Homo sapiens: one gene and its partner. The protein of the gene in region 1 purifies or fractionates together with the protein of each later gene. This does not show direct contact. Each region holds a gene or a part of one and is shown on either strand. Other genes may lie near its edges.

What was found.
Region 2: the proteins of CACUL1 (region 1) and DSG3 purify together in Homo sapiens (affinity purification with mass spectrometry; one large-scale study listed by BioGRID and IntAct). This does not show direct contact.

The regions. Positions count from the first base shown.
Region 1 is NC_000010.11:118,751,907-118,756,415, reverse strand, and holds the start of CACUL1 (CDK2-associated and cullin domain-containing protein 1), read left to right. Parts: upstream 1-1,445; 5' UTR 1,446-1,653; coding exon 1,654-2,020; intron 2,021-4,509.
Region 2 is NC_000018.10:31,446,460-31,450,721, reverse strand, and holds the start of DSG3 (desmoglein-3 preproprotein), read right to left. Parts: upstream 2,982-4,262; 5' UTR 2,845-2,981; coding exon 2,797-2,844; intron 1-2,796. UniProt on the Homo sapiens protein: A component of desmosome cell-cell junctions which are required for positive regulation of cellular adhesion. Required for adherens and desmosome junction assembly in response to mechanical force in keratinocytes.

The DNA of each region.
Region 1 (4,509 bases):
ATGATAAACCATTAGTTGTTTGAAACAGAATTTGCCTTCCTTCTGCCTCTCTTTTTGCCACACATGTAATTCTAAGGTTTTATGTTTTCCCCTTCAGCATACCACTTAATTCTCTTTTTTTTTTTGGAGACAGTCTCACTCTGTCACCCAGGCTGGAGTGCAGTTGCGCGATCTCGGCTCACTGCAGCCTTGACCTCCAGGGCTCAAGTGATCCACCTAAGCCTCCAGAGTAGCTGGGACCACAGGCACACGCCACCATGCCAGGCTAATTTTGTTTTTAGAGGCGTGGTCTTGTTATGCTGGTCTGGCTGGTCTCGAATTCCTGGGCACAAGCGGGCCTCCCATCTCTGTCTCCTCAAGTGGTTGAATTACAGGCGTGAGCCACTGCGCCCAGCTCGCATTTTTTTTTTTTTTTTGAGATGGAGTCTCGCTCTGTTGCCCAGGCTGGAGTGCAGTGGCGCGATTTCGGCTCACTGCAACCTCTGCCTCCCGGGTTCAAGCAATTCTGCCTCAGCCTCCCGAGCAGCTAGCTGGGACAACAGGCACGTGCCACCACGCCCGGCTAACTTTTTTGTATTTTTAGTAGAAACGGGGTTTCCCGTGTTAGCCAGAATAGTGTCGATTTCCTGACCTCGTGATCCGCCCGCCTCAGCCTCCCAAAGTGCTGGGATTACAGGAGTAAGCCACCGCGCCCGGCCTGAGCCGGCATTTTTAAAAGTTGGGTTGCTGGCCTTAGTGCATACAAACGTAAAGGAATTTTAAAAACACATGAGTAACTCAAACGCATTTCTTTTTTGCGCCATCCTGCTATGTGTGATTCGGTTTTTATTCTCGATTTTGTGCGTGTGTGTCGCGACGGCTGGGGACCGACCCAAGAGCAGTCGGACCACGGGCCGCCCAGGGCGGTCTCATCCGTTTATAACCTGCGACCCCGGGGCCTCTTGTGGTCCCGTACCTCCGTCCCAAGCAAAAGCCGGGGCTCTCAGGCACTCAGAGGTGCGAAGGCCCCGTAGACTTGGAGGACGCGAGGAAAACACCTCCAATCACTCTGGCCAGTCCACAGCTACTGCCAAGACTGCTCCGCGCGCGTCCTCAGGAACCGGCGAGGGCCTCGTCGTCATGGTAACCAGATTGCGAACGCGCGTGCGCAAGACACACCTTTGTCACGTGAGGCCGGGCAGGGGGCGGGGCCGGCGAATGCCCGTCCCGACCCGTCGCGCCTCCCCTGTTAGCTCCCTGCCAGCCGAGGCGGGGCGAACCTCTGCCCTGTTGCGTGGGAGTGACTCACAGCTCCCGCCCCTTTTGGCTCCGCTTTCTCGCGGCCAGTCCCTCGCACCACGTGCCCTCCTGGCCGCGCCCCCAGCTGCCCTTTCCAACTGCCTGTTGGAAGCCGCTGTAAAACGTCGTGAGGAGCGCCGCTGCTTTACGGCTGCCTCTCCCAGACTAGAGCCCCGGAGCGCCCACCGCCGTCAGCCGCGTCTTCAAGCTAGTCGGCCCCGCGGAGAGCGAGAGACCCTGCGCACCGCAGCCCTCTCCGCTGCGCCCATTCCTGCCGCCGGCGATGTAACTCGGGGAGGCAGCGGTGCCCGCTGGCCCGGGGTTGAGACAGGCGGCAGGTGCCTGTGAGGCGGGCGGGTGCCGGGGGCCAGCAGGATGGAGGAAAGCATGGAAGAGGAGGAGGGGGGCAGCTACGAGGCGATGATGGACGACCAGAACCACAACAACTGGGAGGCTGCGGTGGACGGCTTCCGGCAGCCCCTGCCACCTCCGCCGCCCCCCTCGTCGATCCCGGCCCCTGCCCGAGAGCCTCCGGGGGGGCAGCTGCTGGCGGTGCCCGCGGTCTCCGTGGACAGGAAAGGCCCCAAGGAGGGGCTCCCGATGGGGCCGCAGCCACCGCCGGAGGCTAATGGGGTGATCATGATGTTGAAGAGCTGCGACGCGGCCGCCGCCGTGGCCAAGGCGGCCCCCGCCCCCACCGCCAGCTCCACCATCAACATCAACACCTCCACCTCCAAGTTCTGTGAGTCCAGCCTTTCCCTGCAGCCTTGGCTTTTCTCCACCTCACTCGGACGCCGAATCCACCCCCTCTTGGAGAAAGCTCCGCTTCCTTTGTTTCAGGCCTCGGTCTTTCCTCTTCTCCCCGTCCGCCTTCGCCTCCCTGCCTCCTTCCCCCTCACCGTCCCCTCCCCCTCATTTGGTGTCTGCGGCCAGCGCCTGAGCGGCCCTGGCTTCTTGTATTACCTGGCCTAGAGAGGCAGCCTGGTACACACGGAGCCCCAAGTTCGGTCAGTGCGATCCCTATCACAACTGGCAGTCTCTCAACATTGGGAAGCTCTTTTCGCACCCGTCTTCTCTTGAAGTTTCACCCTCAAAGTGAGGGGAAAATAAGGCTGCCTGAGTCTCGTTAGGGAAAGGCCTTCAGTCTTCTGCAGCCAGAGAGAGAAAAGAAATCTGGCAACTTGTGTTCTTGTGTTTTTGGCCAGGCTGTGTTAAACAAGTAAGGAATTTGAAAGTTGACCTATATCTACACCTTGTTCCTTCTCTACTGTGTTACACTTTTGCATCCTGCTAGGGAAATAATGAGTTGCTTTCCGATGCAGTGGCAGCTCCGACATCGTCTTGAAGCTAATAATGCATAAAATCACTTTTCAGAGCTTACACTCATAAGAATAAGCCTTTCAGGATGGGTTATGTCTTGTGTCCAAACCCAAGATTGGGTTGCATGTTGAACTTTATGTTAGTAGTCTGTCTTAACGCTCAATTGCACGCATTAAGATTTAAGACCAAAATCTGTTTTGTAATCCGAAACTGCCTCTGACCAGGATATATGTATGCTTCCATAGCTAGGAAAAGAATGTGCTTTTACTTTGGTTTGTGTGTATGTGTGCGTGGCGGTGGTGGTGGTGATAGGATGTTGAAAATGATTGTGACCATCACAGCCAGGTTTTTCTCTCCTATTATTAACTGCAAGTTTTGAGTGGCATCTGGTAAAGCAACTGGAGAGTTCATTTCTAGCTACTAATTTTATGAAGCTGTACTTGTCCAGTTAGCTGTGCAGAGAAAATATTTGCCTTGATGCAGATAGTCGGAATCTTACACACTGTGTGTGGGAACAGCGCGTAATTTTATTTGCCCCAAGATACTGCCTTAGTCAAAGACATTGATATGTACGTTTGGTAAGATTATATACGCTTTTTCTCCTTATTCATGATAATCATGTTTATATTGTATAGTTTGTGTGTTGAAGGCTGTGTTGTGGAACCAGACCTCCTGTAGAGTGGCAGAATGACTTCACCTGAGTCACGAAGGAAGATTGCCTTAGTAAAGTTCCTTTGAAGAGTTCAAAAAAGAGCATAAAGTTAGGAACAGAAATCAGTAAAATTGAGAACAAAAGGATTTGTCACACCAAAAGATTATTTTTGTGAAAAGATGAGTAAGCTAGGCAGACAGACCTCTGATAAAAACGACAAGAAAAAAAGATGCAAATAAATGAAAAATGGAAAATAACTACAAATATCAGATTAAAAAAAGAACGTTATGAACTTAGGCTGATGAATTTGAAAGCCTAAATGAAAAATATAGTTCTTAGAAAACTAGTAAATGTGAAAATTGGTATCAGAAGAAATATCTTGAACTAATAAACTGAAATGGTAAAGATCTCCCTTTTTAGAAGCTCTGCATCCAGATACGCTGATGAGTTCCACCATACTTTAACACTTAATTCTTTTTGCAAGTTGCACTGGAAAATAGAAAAAATACCAAGTTCATTTTATGAGGCTTGTGAAATCTTGATTCTAAAACAGATAAGGACATGTAAGAAGAGAAAATTATAGGTCTGTTTTACTTAGCATAGAAATGAAAATACTGCAGAATAAATACTCGCTCATCAAATCCAACAGTGTGTTACAGAGTCCTGATCCATAGAGTTAGTCCTAGAGATGAAAGCATGGTTTAACATCTACTTATCTAATTTAGCTCTTTAATAGACTAAAGGAAAAAAATTACGATTATCTCAATTGGTGCCCTGAAATCATTCAACTAGATCCAGCAGCTATTTATGATAAAAACTCTTGGTAACCTAGGAGTACAAGATAACTAGATAAAGGTCATTACCAAAAACCTTCAGTAAATAATAATACTTAATGGAGAAATTTTAGATACATATACTTTAAGATCCGTAACAAGATAAGGATGCTCCTGTCATTACTACTGTTTAGCATTGTAGGAAGGTCCTGGCTAACATTATAAGGAGCAAAAAAATAAGGTATAAAGATTGTAAGGGAAGCAATAAAAGTTATTATTTGCAGATAATATGATCACCTACCTAGATGAACCATTAAAATCCAGAGAAAACTTAGAACTAGTAAGAGTTTAGCAGGATTGCTGGATTTAAGATAAACTTACAAAAATTTGATAGCATTTACTAAACTAGTGATAACTAGTAAAGATAATCAAAAGTAAATACTATATGTAATAATAGCAACAAAACTCTAAAGTCTCTAGGAATCA
Region 2 (4,262 bases), on another chromosome or scaffold:
TCTTATTTGACAGTTGAGGAAACAAAGCCTGTAGTGAGTCAGTGGCATAGCCAGAGATTTAAGTCTATGACTTTGCTATTATTTCTCACTGTTCTGGGCAACCCATGTATGGTCATTGGATGGTGGATTATTACAAAACCTTCAAACACATCTGCCAACTTTCAGAACCCACCCTGCAACAACAAAAAATGAGCATTCCCACTTGAGAATGCTTTAGAAAACATTGCTTTTCCCCCCCATGACCACATTATTTCAAAACTCTGGGTGGCTCCCCACTTGTAAAAGGTTTCCATGAGCCTTCACAAAATGCACTTTTCAATCTGACCCTCAGCTGCCTTTCCAATTCATGTCCAGATTCTCCAAAGCAAACTGTCATGCTAGTCATACTGGTGTGTCCATTTCCCCTAGGCAAATCCTAACTGTGCCTGCCTTTGATTATACTCTTCTGACAACCCAAGAGATCTCCTTTTGGCCCGTCCATCTATACTTATCCCAAATCAGCTCAAATTTCACTGAATCCATAAAGACTTGATTGCCTCTCTCCTGACTGACACTGCCTTCTATCAATAGCATTAATAGTAGACCAGTACTGTCCAATAGAAAGCTAAAAACCACAAATGCGAACCACATATAATTAAAAAATTTAGTCACATTTAAAACGTTTTTAAAAGGTGAAATGCATTTTAACAATACGGTTAACTTAATCTAATACATCCAAAATACTATCATTTCAACATGTAATCAACATAAAAAATTATTGACATATTTTACATTCTTTTGTTCATTCAAAGTCTTCTTCAAATTATGATGTATATTTTATATTAAATAGCACACCTCAACTCAGACCAACCACATTTCAAGTGGCTTAAAACCACATGTGGCTGGTGGCTACCATATGGGACAGAGTAGGTCTAGACCACTCAGTTGAACAATTATGTATGAAGTTATACTGTTGTTTAAACAGCATGTGTATGTAAAATTTTCTTGAGTGGAACCAAATACATGTCATTTCATAGTTTCCTTTATGACTAGAATTATAGGGACATTGTGCGGGGGTTTTTTAGTTTAGAGAAGGCTCATTAAATCATTCATTTACTCATTCTTCAAACAATTGCATGTCCACTCTAAGACAGATATAATAAGCATTGAGAATATAAAAATAAAAATTAGCCTCAATATAAGGATGTCACAGTCACTCCAGAATCAGAGGAGTAATTGAGAGTGTCCTATATGTCAAATTAGAAAAAAAAAAGAATCCCCCTTAGCTTATGGTGGCCCAATCCTATGTCCTCATGGCAATACTATCCCGACAGCCCATGCTGCATGGCCCCTAACTTCCTGAGCTTTGCCATTGGCTTGGACATAGGGGTTATCAGACCACCTGGGGTTCAGCCCAGACATTTCCCATCTGGAAAGGTGGGAAAGTCATACAACTGTCACATTTCTCTTTAACAACATCCTCCTTTCAAATAAAATCAGGTACTGAACACAGTTACATTGTCGTAATAGAAATAGAATCTTAGAGGCTGGGTGCAGTGGCTCACATCTGCAATCCCAGCATTATGGGAGGCCGAGGTGGACGGATCCATTGAGGCTAGGAGTTTGAGACTAGACTGGTCAACATGGCAAAACCCCATCTCTACTAACAATACAAAAAAATTAGCTGGCTGTGGTGGTGCACGCCTGTAATCTCAGCTACTCAGGAGGCTGAGGCACGAGAATCACTTGAACCCCAGAGGCAGAAGTTGGAGATCGCACCACTGCACTCCAGCCTGGGCAACAGAGCCAGACCTTGTCTCAAAAACAAAAACAAAAACAAAAATCTTAGGGAGAGCTAAGAAAGTCCTTTCTTGAGATCTATCTCCCTGTGACTTCTTGAAGTCCATTTATCTCAATTTTTTTCATGAAGAAATGAGGTAAATTGATGCCTAGGCCAACCCAGCTTATCATGGAAACCATACAAATTAGCATTAGGAATTGTTTTGACATTCATTTTTAAGGTATATTTAACTATTTTGATATCTCCGTGTAACAGATAATATTGTGACTTTTCTTTTTTTTTTTTTGCTATAAGAACACAGTTAAGGAGTAAGTTAGTCTGTAACATCCAGGTTTTAAACAGTCTGTAACATTCCGTTTCTCTTTTAGATAATACTATGTACGACTTTCTCAATCAACAGAAGTATTACTTTTCTGAAAAAAATGGCTTTAAAATGTTGTATGTCTTTCCCCCCATCCCCAAAGGCTGACATTTTCTTTTGGCACATAATAGCTAAACATAAATACTTACTTAATAATCCTCCCAACTTCTCTAGAGTCAAACACTGCTTTGATTTTAATTCTGCGATTTTTTACTTTTAAAAGCGTGTCAGGTATCAAGCCCAGGCGTGTAGAGTTCTTAGCTATATGCTAAGAGACATGTAATCTTGGAAAATAGAAGTGGCTCCTGTGTTCTTGTTTGTGGGTTAGAAAAACTAGTAAAAGCATAACTTTAAAGAAAGTGAAAATGTTGTGGAAAATATAACCTGTGATTAAGATTACTTAATTCATTAACTAAAAAAAATTCTAAATGGTTTTTAAAACTCATTTCTTTCTGGTTTATTTTTCTATGTAAAATACAACATAAAAAACAACAAAAGAAGGAAATTGGTAATCTTCACGATTTCATTTCAAAGTGTTGATTTCCACTGCACTCCTTTTAGAATTTATAATAAAGATTGTGCAATCAAATATAATATTCTTTAACAAGGGAGGAAGCAGGGAAGTTTGTGATTATTAGGAAAATCCAGGACTTACCACGAAGATGGCCAGAGCCCCTGTAGTTCTGGGGAAGAGCCCCATCATTGTCTCTGATTTCCCTGGTGAAAAAGTCCAAGTGAGCCGCTGCTTCTATCCTGCCAGCCGTCTGCAGTTGATGTCTAAGAAAAGCCCTCTGCAGCGTCTCTGCTGCTTTCCGAAGGAGTCTACAGATGGTCTGTTATGCGGTCCCTCCCCACCCTAAACCAAGGGTAGGTCTCACCAGAAACGCTTGCATCACCTTTGCTCCCAGGTAAAAACTTAGCCACACCTCGATTCCTAAAGCAATGAAATCCTTTGTTGGAAGCTGAAAGAAAAGTTCACAGGCTAAAGACAAAGTTTAATAGGAAGGTACCAGATGAATAATAAATTAATCATGATGTGGAAGTGCAAAAGCTAGTCCGGACTACACTTTGTCAGTGTTGATGTCTTATGGCTGAATCTAGTTGACTATGGTTACAATGAAAACCGAAAAGCAAAGCAAAACGTACAAAATCCCCCAAAATCTAACTTGTAAAAGAGCATTTATTTTCAGCCTGAGTATGTGTGGGTAGATCTAAAGTTAAGCAAAATGTAGATGTTAAGCAATGATATATTTTATTGAAAGGCACTAAAAATATGAAGAAGAAAAACATCCCATTAAGCAACTATGAATGTAGGCTTTGAATAAAAAAAAAAAAAGAAATAAAATTGAACAGTTATATGGTGCCTTGAATATTTGAAATATATAAATAATGCGTTGCAAAATTACTCTGATAATACTCAAATGACATCTTTTATACTGTATTTCTTTTCATTTATAACTTTCAAAAAAGCCTAGATTGCCTAATAAGGTAGATTATCTTGGTGCTCTTTTCATTACTCAAGACATTTTCCCCAGTGTGGTGAACCTGCTTGCTGTTACATACTCGGAAGTGCTTAAATACTTCGACTCTAACCCAAGATAAAGCAGAGGGGAAAAATTACCAGCCCCATTTTAGCTACTTTGCTTATAACATTAGAATTTAAAGTACTTTTTACAGTTTCAGAAATATTGAAAGAAAGGTTTGGTAGAAGAGCAATTTTATCTTTGCAAGTATTACACATTAGGTTTTAGAAACCACTTAATCACAGTTTTTTTTTTGAATCGGGGTCTCGCTCTGTCGCTCAGACTGGAGAGCAGTGGCGCGATCTCGGCTCACTGCAACCTCTGCCTCCCGGGTTCAAGCAATTCTCCTGAATTGAGGAGGCTGTCTCCTGCCTCAGGCTCCCGAGTAGTACAGAAAATGAAACATTATTCTTATTTATTTATTTATTTATTTACTTACTTACTTACTTGAGACTGCGTCTCTTTGTGTTGCCCAGGCCGGAGTGCAATGGCGCGATCTCGGCTCACTGCAAGCTCCGCCTTCCGGGTTCAAGTGATTCTCCTGCCTCAGCTTCCCGAGTAGCTGAGATTACAGGCTCCCGCCAACTCGCCCGGCTAA